Homo sapiens: one gene and its partners. The main gene of each other region encodes a partner of the protein of the gene in region 2 in a complex. Each region holds a gene or a part of one and is shown on either strand. Other genes may lie near its edges.

Region 1 (3,827 bases), on a different chromosome or scaffold from region 2:
CTGGATAAAGTCATCTAGAATGAACTGGGGAACCTGTGTGGTTTTCCCACATCCAGTAGCCCCTCTAATAATGACAACTGAATTTTGGCTGATTGCTTCCAGAATCTCACTTTCAAATTTCTTCACAGGCAGTAACTCTCTCTCCTGCAAGATCTGCATTAGAAAAGTCACACTTCAGTCAAATGTCTACCAACACATTAGAAGCAACTGTCTTGATCCTTTAAAAAACTTCCATCTCTATAGACTGGGCGCGGTGGCTCACGCCTGTAATCCCAGCACTTTGGGAGGCTGAGGATCATGAGGTGAGGAGTTCGAGACCAGCCTAGCCAACATGGTGAAACCCCATCTCTACTAAAAATACAAAAATTAGCCAGGTGTGGTGGGGTGTGCCTGTAATCCCACCTACTTGGGACGCTGAGGCAGGAGAATTGCTTGAACCAAGGAGGCGGAGGGTGCAGTGAGCCGAGACTGAGCCACTGTACTCCAGCCTGGGCAACTAAGCGAGACTTTGTCTCAAGAAAAAAACAAACAAAAAAACCAAACTTCCATCTCTATAAAAACTTACTCATTTCCATTGGCTTAGTGATGAAAATGTTTTTTTCAAAAAAGAATGTGTATATTTATATCTCTAATAGAACTACTTCTTTTCACTACACTTCTGAAGAATGTATCTTTTGATGTTGTCCAAAAACTAAATTCTCATTGTCCCTGAAAGTCGCACACGCATTCTTTTTAACATTTTAATTTTTTATTTGGAAAACACTAAAACAAACAAAAAAACCAACAACAAAAGGAGTCACTGCCTTAAATCTCTCCACTTTTATTAAATTACATTAAGAAGTGAAATTCTCTCACAGGCCCTCAACTCATAGCAACTAACTTCAGGGGTAACTAGGATTAGCAGTTTGGTACATATCTTTTGATATGCCCTCCTTAAAAGGGCAAAATGTACTGCTCATTGACTTTTTACCCATACCTAGAACATTCTGAAGCTCTGAGCACTACTTGTCTAAATAATTCAGACTTACTGCTTGCAAATCATGATCCTGTTCCAACTGGTACATCAATTCATTCTTGAGGTCCATGCTTATTTGCTCTGGAGTAGCCTGTAAAACAAAAAGCCAACATAGTCAAACAAAAGCACATAATTCAGCTTCAAAATAAATCCATTTTTTACCTAGACATACTAATCAAATATAGTCTCAAGAGTAAAACACAAGACTCTGATCTCAAAAACAATATTGCACTCACAAAAGCCAGAGGCCCCTCATCAATGTTGCTACTAGTCCAAGGATTCCAGTTGGATTGTGGAGGTGACCAAGGAACCACACCCACTTGGTTTTGTCGCTGAGATGGTTCGAACTGAGCCAATTTGCCAATGTTGAGTGCAACTGGCACAGAAGGATCTTCAGGCTATTAAAAAATAAGAAAAACAAACAAAAAATATGATTTGCTTGTCTACGGAGAGTTCTACGTAAATGTGAACTAAACAGCTTTATGCTTACCGGGGGCAAAATCTCAAGATTTAGCTCTTGAATGATGTTTTGCAGCTGATGCTCTAAATCTTGAGAGAGGTTTACTTTGTAAGGCTCCACCTATGGAAAAAGGATCACACATTAACAACACTACTCAAATCTACTATAATGGGGCTAAGACTATACAGTCAACACTAGGTCTACAATATTCCTAAACCAATAGTCAGTTCCCTTTTGTGAGAGAATTACTTCAATGATTATTTACTCACTGCCTATTATGAACATCATGCCAGACACAGAGATGATTAGCAGGGCCATTTTCATTTCCTGAGGTAAGATTCTTAAAATTAAACTTCTTCAGCCAAACACTAAACAAGAGCTAAATTGAATCTCACACTATCTCACAAGTCTATTAAATCTAAAGACTCACTGTCTCTCCTTCCTTCTTCTTTGTAAGTCCGGAGTAAGCTTCAACCACTCCAAGATGGTACAGTTGTCTGACAAGTGACAGGGCACAGGACTGTGCTGCCAATTTCTTATTTGATCCATGTTCTCGTGCAAAAATCCCTATAATGTAAGGTCAGGATTATCAGACAGAAAGAAATCATCTGAGTAAAGAAACATCTTATCACAAGAAACTATGGGCTTACGTACACAAGAAGCCCTAAAATACAGGGTATGCCATGGCTTCTAGTTCCTTTTTATTCTATTAATATCTGCTAAACAAAAGAAATTGCCAAACAGCTTATCAACTAAATAACCAACAGTTTTGATTACTGGCTGATACTAGGACTCATACAAATCAATATTATGAAAGCAAATAACCTATTTCAACAAAGTTGTCACTGTTAATATCAGACATTAAAATGGGGAAGAAAACATAGTTTGAAAAGACAAAGAGTAAAAAATAAACCAGTAAAAGTAATTGGGTCCAGAGTGGTTACCTAGACCAGGATTTGGGAAACTTTTTCTATAAACGGTCAATTAATAAATATTTTAGGCTTTGCAGGCCATATAGTATCTTGTCACAACTACTCAACTCTGCCTTTAATGTGTGAAAGCAGTCACTGACAACAGAGTTTGATAAACCATAGGACTGGGAATGGCTTTACGTTTTTCAAGAGTTGTAAAAATAAAATGAGAATAACAATGTGTGACCTGTAAAGTCTAAAATGTGAGTGTAGCTATGTTACAATAAAACAGTTCTTATAAAAACAGGCAGTACGCTGGATCTGGCCAGAGGGCTATAGTTTGCTGACCTTAGCATTAAACTAAAGCTAAGTTACTCATATCCTTATAGAAAATATTAACAGAAAGTTTCCTCTCCTCCTGTATCATTCATCCTTAGGAGAGATGAATATAAAGCAAAGGGGTACAAAGGTATCTTTCTGCCTAACTAGCCAAATTAACCTCGATAAGGTAAGTGAGCTGACAGAAGTTAGCCTGCCTTTATCCTCTCTCCCTTAGTATTATCCATCCACTCAAAATAACTCATTGTATATATAAAAATGAAAAAATGTTTAAGACCAGGCACAGTGGCTCACGCCTGTAATCCCAGCACTTTGGGAGGCTGAGCCAGGCAGATCACTAGGTCAGGAGATAGAGACCATCTGCTAACATGGTGAAACCCCGTCTCCACTAAAAACAAAAAATAATCAGCCGGGCTTGGTGGCAGCACCTGTAGTCCCAGCTACTGGGGAGGCTGAGGCAGGAGAATGGCGTGAACCTGGGAGGCGGAGCTTGCAGTGAGCCGAGATCACACCACTGCACTCCAGCCTGGGCGACAGAGCAAGACTCCGTCTCAAAAAACAAAAAAGGTTTAAAATTAATTGACACTGGCAGACTCCTAATCATCCCACTGTGTCTTACCTTTGAAAGATTACACTAACATGGTCTGTTTTCACATGCAAACTGGGAGACTTTGCCTCTAATTTATATAATTACTAATATTCTAAAATATACCCTAGATGCTATCTTACATTATGTGCTCTTTCAAATAATACAGCTTCTGTATACGTGACTCAAGACTTAAAATGTGAAGATTCCTTCTCTATACAGAGACTTGGAATATTGGGGAAACAGTAACACTTACTTCTGCCCAGCTGCTTGATATAAATGGTCATTTCTGCAATAAAGCTCCTGTAACAACATATACAAGCAAGGTTAGAAATTTCACTGTTAGAAACCAGCAAATCCAGGTCTCCCAAGTCAGGCAGGCTTTCCAACTGCTTAGGCAAATCACAGAAAAAAAAAATTACCAACATTTATTTCTGCCCAACCCTAGAACAAATGAAGTATATAAACTTCAAATAATATACAACATGGCATAAGACAACTATAATCAAAGTTGAT
Region 2 (3,827 bases):
CCCTCGACCTCTTGTTGGAGGGGGCATATGAGGTGGACCATAATAGTAGTAATCGTCATACCTATTAAAAAAGAGACAGAGATTAGAGTTTAAATCAAATTACTTAGTTAACAAGTAGGCATTTAGCCATTTGTAACAGTTTAAATCCAGAGTTTACTTCGCATAATTCACATAACTTTAATACAGAATTATTTGTACTAGATTAAGTTTTAGTAGTAGTAATGATCAGAGGATCAGGATGACAATATAGGCATCCCAAAATACCACAAATCTCTAGTTATGAACCTTATTTATTTCTTCATGATCTTCAAAATCTCCCAATAAACCTGTTACAGAATTTTTACAATTGATTTAGCTGTCAAATTTGCCACTTTAGGGCTGGGAGCGGTCATGCCTGTAATCCCAGCTATGCGGGAGGCTGAGTGAAGCAGGTGAATCGCTTGAACCCAGGTGGCGGAGGCTGCAGTAAGCCAAGGTCACATCACTGCACTCCAGCCTGGGTGACAGAGCGAGACTCTGACTCAAAAAAAAATTTGTCACTTTGAATTGCATTTCTGCTAAGATTCTATTCCAATATACTTGAAGAACATTTATTACAAAAGCAAAATGGCAAGTAGGACAAGCACACAACCAAAATGTGTGAAGTTCAAAGTTTACTACAGTAAATTAGCATAAAGACCTTAAAGTTTTCCTGTTTCTACAATAATGCTATCCAAGTAAAATTTAAAAGATCTGCTACTTTCCCAAAAATAAACTACACCGTAACTATAGTGCTGAACTTTAACCACTAAACAGGTATAACTTTAGTTGTCAAAGTGATTAGAAAGCAACCACACAAATCAGCATATGCTTACATACTATGTAAAAGGACTAAACGAAGTTACAATATTCCAACTCATGTTCCCTACAGTACAATTTTATACAATTCCTTAAAACTTAGTGATTATTTTGAGCCCAATAATCCCATGAAATATGGAAATTAATCCCTCTTGAAGGAATAATTTACTCGTGTTTTTTATTCCGTACCTGTTATGTTATTTTATTTATTTATTTATTTGAGACACAGTCTTGCTCTGTCACCCAGGCTGCAATGCAGTGGCGCAATCTCACCTCACTGCAACCTCCACCTCCTGGGTTCAAGTGATTCTCCTGCCACAGCCTCTCGAGTAGCTGGGACTATAGGCATGTGCCACCATACCTAGCCAATTTTTATTTTTAGTAGAGATGGGGTTTCACCATGTTGGCCAGGCTGGTCTCGAACTCCTAACCTCGAATGATCCACCCACCTCGGCCTAGAGTGATCTGCCCACCTCAGCCTCCCAAAGTGGTGGGATTACAGGCATGAGCCACCACGCCCGGCCTTATTTTATCCTGAATTATTAAAGGCCCCTGTTCCAACTGACTAACGTAAAAATGTTATTCCGGTTCACTAGGTCCTTAGACCTTTTATGTGCTCTGCTGGTTTATTGTTTTGAGGAAATGATGGAAAGATCATCCTTTTCTATTTCTAAATAGTTCTCACCAGGGATAATTTTGCCACCACCTCTTTCCAGGGGGACATTTTAGACGGTCATAACTGAGAAAGGGGGTGCTACTGGCATCTAGCAGGAAGAGGCCAAGGATGCTGCTAAAAGTCCTACAACGCACAGGGCAGCCCCCAAGACCAAGAATTATCCAGCCCAAAATGTCAGGAGGACAGAGATGAGAAATCCTGGTATAGTGGTTAAGAGGGAAAATTATGGGAGACTAGACTACCTTAGTTCAAATCCAACTCCACTACTTACTATGTGAATGACCCCAAGGAAGTTGACTTCTGAGCCTCAGTTTCCTCATTTCAAACTAAGGGATAGAGTACCTAACTCACAGGAATACAGTGAGAATTATGTAGGAATACGTGCTTAGTTAAAACTTAAAAAAAAAAAAAAAAAGACTGTAGCAAGTTAAAGTACGAAAGTAACATGCAATCATCCCTTTTAGTTTGTACTCCTTTTCAAATATTAACAGATATACTGACATCCTCCACCTTCTATTTAGTATCTCCCTCTATCAAGTACCAAATGTAACTGCTCTAATCACATTATCTAATATAATCTCCTATACTTACATTCTACTTTAATAAATTAACCATATATCGTCTTCTGAAAGAAATAAAAAGAAGTTATTTTACACTGTTTAGTATATCCAGGTGTTTGAAATATAGAGCATTAAAACTAACTCTTTTTGTAGTCTTCCTTCATTTACACTATCATCAAACCTACAAAGTATATTTTCTTTGGTCCCAGAACAAGCATGGGTCACTTGGATAATCACATAATCCAGAGCTATTACATAATTTTGTCTGATCCCATTTTAGAACTGAAGAAATTGAGGTTCAGAGCTTGCCAACTTGTCCAACTGGACAATTAACTGCAGAAACTAGAACTTGATCAATTCCCTGATTATGAAGTAACAGAAATATGTAGAAGCATCCTCTTCCTTTAAATTCCAAACAGGGCAATCAACAGAAAATTAACCTTGAATAGTATTGACAGTGATTATTGCTCTCACATTCAAGAACAATTACCCCTCTTCTAGGAAATCAGTAACTAACTTTTTAGGAGCTAACTTCAATTCTTACCCAACTAAGTTTCCTTCAGTCTTAAGCAGATACCTATTTACAGATTCTCTAAAAAGGTCTCCCTAATTAGTATAACTCATTACACACCTACTTGTTTTCTTATTGCACTACTGTGTTATAATTTTAATACTCATTTCATTTTCAAAATCCATCCATCGAACATGAAATTTTTGGGGTGGCAATGAGCACTACTGGTGAAGAAACAGTCTATCATGAATAGAGATTTAGTATTTCCTATCTCTCAGAGAAAAAACTCTCCACCCTTTAACAAAATGTATTAAGATATTTGGACAGCTAATATTTAAGACATTTTCAGAAGAACATTCTGTAAAATACAAAGAAAATATGTGAGATAGGCCAGGCATGGTGGCTCACAGCTGTAATCCCAGCACTTTGGGAGGCAGAGGTGGGCGGATCACCTGAGGTCAGGAGTTTGAGACCAACCTGGCCAACATGACGAAACCCCACCCCTACTAAAAAAAAAAACACAAAAATTACCAGGCATGGTGGCGCCTGTAACCCAGCTACTCAGAAGACTGAGGCAGGAGAATCTCTTGAACCCGGGAGGTGGAGGTTCCAGTGAGCCGAAAGAGTGCCACTGCACTCCAGCCTGAGTGACAAAGTGAGACTCTGTCACCCAATACAAAACAAAAAAAAAGCTAGACAGATTTTTCATCTTGCCAATTTACCAAAATTCCAGTTATTTACAATTCTGATTATTTTCACAAATATGGTTCATAGTAAGAGTTCAATAAACACTTAGATCACTGGTGTTTCCCTATGACTCTCAAACGTTCAAGTCTTCTTTAAAGAGATGTTATGCATTTAACAAGTCTGATCAACACCTGTTATTTTCCAATTAGTGTATAAATATTAAAATTTATACAATTTTTAAGTATACAAATTTCACTCACATTTGATTTTTTGCTGCTTGCCTCTGAGCTTTTCTTTCTTTCCTTTTCTGATCTGGTGGCTTGGCAAAAACAATTTCAATATTTTCTCCCTCCAAGTCTTTGCCATTCATTTCTTCCATAGCCTTAAAAAATTAGATAAGTCAATATAAAAATAGGACTTTCATACAATTATGATTCATTTAAAGTTGGAATATCATTTATCATTAATGTGGGAAGGACAAGAGAAAGCCCCATGCAGGCAGTCAAATAATTTTATTTAAAGATGCAGATATTCAATTATTTTTCATTTTTACTTA
Region 3 (3,600 bases), on a different chromosome or scaffold from region 2:
AATTGCTTGAACCCGGGAGGCAGAGGTTGCAGTGAGCTGAGATCGCACCACTGCACTCCAGCCTGGGCAACAGAGCAAAACTCTGTCTCAAAAAAAAAAAAAAAAAAATATTAAAGAAAGAAGGTGGCAGTGGCAGAATGGGAGATGGGACACAATTATGAAGGTCCTAATTTTGGACAGGTTGGCCAGCCCTGTTACCACACTAAGTGATCATGAAATCACAGAGCACTGAGTTGCTGACTCATCAAAATGAGGTTTGCTTGGAGACTTTTTTTATGAAACTTCACATGAGAAATTATAGAATCTCTCTTGCTAATACGAGTGTGTGGCCTAGCACCCCAGACCCATTCTCCCTCCCTATCTGCCCTCCCTTTCCCAGGAGGCTGGTATTGGAAGCAGGGACCCCTGAATGCTCCAGGCAACATTTCCTAAAAGGTAAATGTTGATGTCTCCAGCATGCTTCCAGGAGGCCTCTTTAGGTACCAACCACTGTTCCCTAGCACCCAACCTCCATTCCCCAAGAGCCAAGACTCACTTGGACTGGGTCTGTTTTGTGATGTTGCGGATGGTGGCCCCCTCCTTGCCAATAATGGCACCCACATACTGGGTGGGCACCAGGAGCCGAAGGGGGATGTCCACTTGCTGCTGCTTGGCTGGGGCCCCCGCTGCCACAGGTGAGCCCTGGCGGGGCTGACCCCGAGAGCCAAAGCCCCCTCGGCGCCCATTCTCAGGTCCCTGTGCTATCTGCTCATCGGGGATGTAGGAGACCTTCAGGGCATGGTTCTCCAACTGGTGGCCATTCAGCTTCATGATGGCTCTGGGGACAGAGTGAGAGTCTACAGGTCATTCCAATCCATGCCAATCATACCAGATGCTCTCTTGGCCAAAGCACTCTAGTAAGTTACAGCTTGGAACACACTAAAGAAAAGGAGATAGTCACCTGCCCACTACCTCCACCTCCATTTTTCACAACTTTCCAGTCTAAATGGCATCAAAGACTTCAAAGGAAAAGTAAATAAATACAGTGTTCCCTAACACTTAGTTGGGATTTATTGTTCACAAAGGCTTTCCACTGGAACCATCAGAGAAATGGGCTTCCAGTCCAATAGAAAGTATAGGGTTCTGCTAGCCTAAAAAGGAAGAGCAAGCCATAGATCTCAAAGTACTCCCATGCCAACTGGAAAGCCTACCACAGACCTGAAGAGGCTCCACAAAGCTAACACATACACTTCCCGGATTGAGGAATCCCTACTACAGGGTGAGGAAACCAACTGCTAACTACTACATACTCCTAACTTTAGAGATGATGAAACCAAGGTCAAAGGAGATTGAAATGTATACATGTAGAATTCAAATGTTAATCCTGCCCTAATGAAGTGTGGGGTTTATTTTCGTTTTTGAAATAAAAGATCTTTATTTCAGATAAAAATTAATATTTCCATAATTAGGATAAAGCAAACACACATTCTTGAGTCCATTATTTAAGGAAATTTATACTATAAATGACTTCCATGAATATTAGAGTTCCTGAATATCATTTGAATATTTGCCTACAGGCTTATGGGAAGTTTCTGTAGCCTTCTCTTTGTAGAAATTCCAGTTTTTCTGAATTCTTCCTTCCTTCAGGTATTCCATTTTGCATTCTTCATAAAAGGCTGGATCATTATAGTGAGCAGTTAGACGTCCTTTCAATAGAGAATTTTCTTTCCAGCATTTTCCTACCGTAAGGGTTCCAGAGTTCTTGCAACATTTGGTAAAATCTTGAAGTTGTTCAGAACACCTCTCTCTGGCCTTTTCTCTCATTATTTTAGGGATCCAAACATCTTTTTCAACATGTCTGAGATGCTGCTTCAAAACTTGCAGCGTCTTCCCATTGTTTTTTATATAAAATTCAAACTCCTTGAAATGCTTGAAATGGTTTACATGACATTTCATAATTCACAACTGAAACCCCTCCATAGCCATGGCACACACTCCTCTTTGATCTCAATTCTTTCTTGTGGCCTTTGCTTAAGCCACTGTTTTTTGTTTTGTTTTGTTTTTTTCTTGAGACAGAGTTTTGCTCATTGCCCAGGCTGCAGTGCAATGGCGTGATCTCGGCTCAGTGCAACCTCCGCCTCCCGGGTTCAAGCCTCAGCCTCCCGAGTAGCTGGGATTACAGGCATGCGCCACCATGCCCCGCTAATTTTGTATTTTTAGTAGAGATGGGGTTTCTCCATGTTGGTCAGGCTGGTCTCCAACTCCCGACCTCAGGTGATTCGCCCGCCTCGGTCTCCCAAAATGCTGGGATTACAGGTGTGAGCCATCGCGCCCAGCCCAAGGCACTGTTTTTCAAATTTCAGGGCAACCCATCAGAGAGTTGTTAAATTAATCTGCCAGGTTGAACGCCATCGTGGCGGGTGTTGAAGCAGCAATTGAGGAATTCTTCTAATGAGCTGCTGGTGCACAAAAAAAAACAAACATGCAGTCTCGAAATTTTAGCTCCTCCGCAGTCCCCCATTTTTTTTTATTATTTTTTATTTTTTTATTTTTTTGATGGAACGCTTCACAAATTTGCGTGCCATCTTCGCGCAGGGGCCATGCTAATCTCTGTACCGTTCCAATTTTAGTATATGTGCTGCCGAAGCGAACACCTCCGCTGTCTTTTGTGCTACCTCTCCTTCCAGAGTCTCCAGAGACCCCTAACTGCCCACTTGGCTCTGGGGCCACAATCTCGCAACGCTCCCCAACCCAATGGGGTCCGCCAGCACGGGGCTGTAATACCACACACCACCAGCAGATGCCGCAGCCCCAACACTTCACAAAGCTAACTTTCAAAATTACAGCCATTTTACTACCTGCTATATACTTGCCAAGCGCTATGCCGGTCGCTTCCAGTCAACCCCGGTCGCTTCCAGTCAACCCCGCACCAGTTGGCCCAGCTGGGAAATGCGGTCACCGTGAGGATTAAGTTAGTAAAATGGTACACAGTGCCTTAAACAGTGACCGGCTGGCCGTGTCAAATTACCAGGCCGAGACCAGCCTGGAGCCGCGGCCTCCACTCCCGCCTAGTGCAGTCCCGGGCCCTCCCACAAGGAGGTCCGGCCCCCGGGGTTGCCTTCCAGCCAGTTGGGGCTTTTGCCCATTTTCCTATCGCCTGCCACCAAGCTGCTGCTACGTATCCCGGCTGGAATCTGACTACCCCTCCAGCAAAGTGGTGGGGGGCGGGCCCGGGTCAGGGAGGCCACATCACCAGCTTCCTGCAGGAACTTCTAGAAGGCGAGCAGCCCGGAAAATGGCATGGGCGGCCGCCCAGGGGAGACCTCGGAGGGCAAGGCATCCCCGTTCCCAGGTGCCCCAGCCACCCCCACCGCTGCAGGTGCACGCCCGCAGGGAGGCGCCATGTGGTGGGGCCCCACATGTGTGTGGGGAGACTGCGAGGTCCCAGCCTACCCACCGCAGGCCACTGCCCCAGACCGCTGCCACCTCCCAGCGCACCTCGCATCCGCATCTGCCCAGGCTCCCAGGGCAAAGATAACTGAATTAGGACACCAGTATTCCAATCTTAGTTCTATTGCTCACTAGCTATATGAAGCAGGAAACTTACAACCTAGTCTAGAC

Evidence for each region.
Region 1: SYNCRIP (region 2) and DHX9 share a complex: the UniProt entries of both Homo sapiens proteins name them as parts of the coding region determinant (CRD)-mediated complex.
Region 3: SYNCRIP (region 2) and IGF2BP1 share a complex: the UniProt entries of both Homo sapiens proteins name them as parts of the coding region determinant (CRD)-mediated complex.

Annotation. Positions count from the first base shown.
Region 1 is NC_000001.11:182,856,319-182,860,145, reverse strand, and holds part of DHX9 (ATP-dependent RNA helicase A), read right to left. Parts: intron 3,615-3,827; coding exon 3,568-3,614; intron 2,043-3,567; coding exon 1,906-2,042; intron 1,596-1,905; coding exon 1,506-1,595; intron 1,414-1,505; coding exon 1,252-1,413; intron 1,107-1,251; coding exon 1,029-1,106; intron 154-1,028; coding exon 1-153. UniProt on the Homo sapiens protein: Multifunctional ATP-dependent nucleic acid helicase that unwinds DNA and RNA in a 3' to 5' direction and that plays important roles in many processes, such as DNA replication, transcriptional activation, post-transcriptional RNA regulation, mRNA translation and RNA-mediated gene silencing.
Region 2 is NC_000006.12:85,615,287-85,619,113, forward strand, and holds part of SYNCRIP (heterogeneous nuclear ribonucleoprotein Q), read right to left. Parts: intron 3,654-3,827; coding exon 3,532-3,653; intron 62-3,531; coding exon 1-61. UniProt on the Homo sapiens protein: Heterogenous nuclear ribonucleoprotein (hnRNP) implicated in mRNA processing mechanisms. Component of the CRD-mediated complex that promotes MYC mRNA stability.
Region 3 is NC_000017.11:49,035,385-49,038,984, reverse strand, and holds part of IGF2BP1 (insulin-like growth factor 2 mRNA-binding protein 1), read right to left. Parts: intron 818-3,600; coding exon 536-817; intron 1-535. UniProt on the Homo sapiens protein: RNA-binding factor that recruits target transcripts to cytoplasmic protein-RNA complexes (mRNPs). This transcript 'caging' into mRNPs allows mRNA transport and transient storage.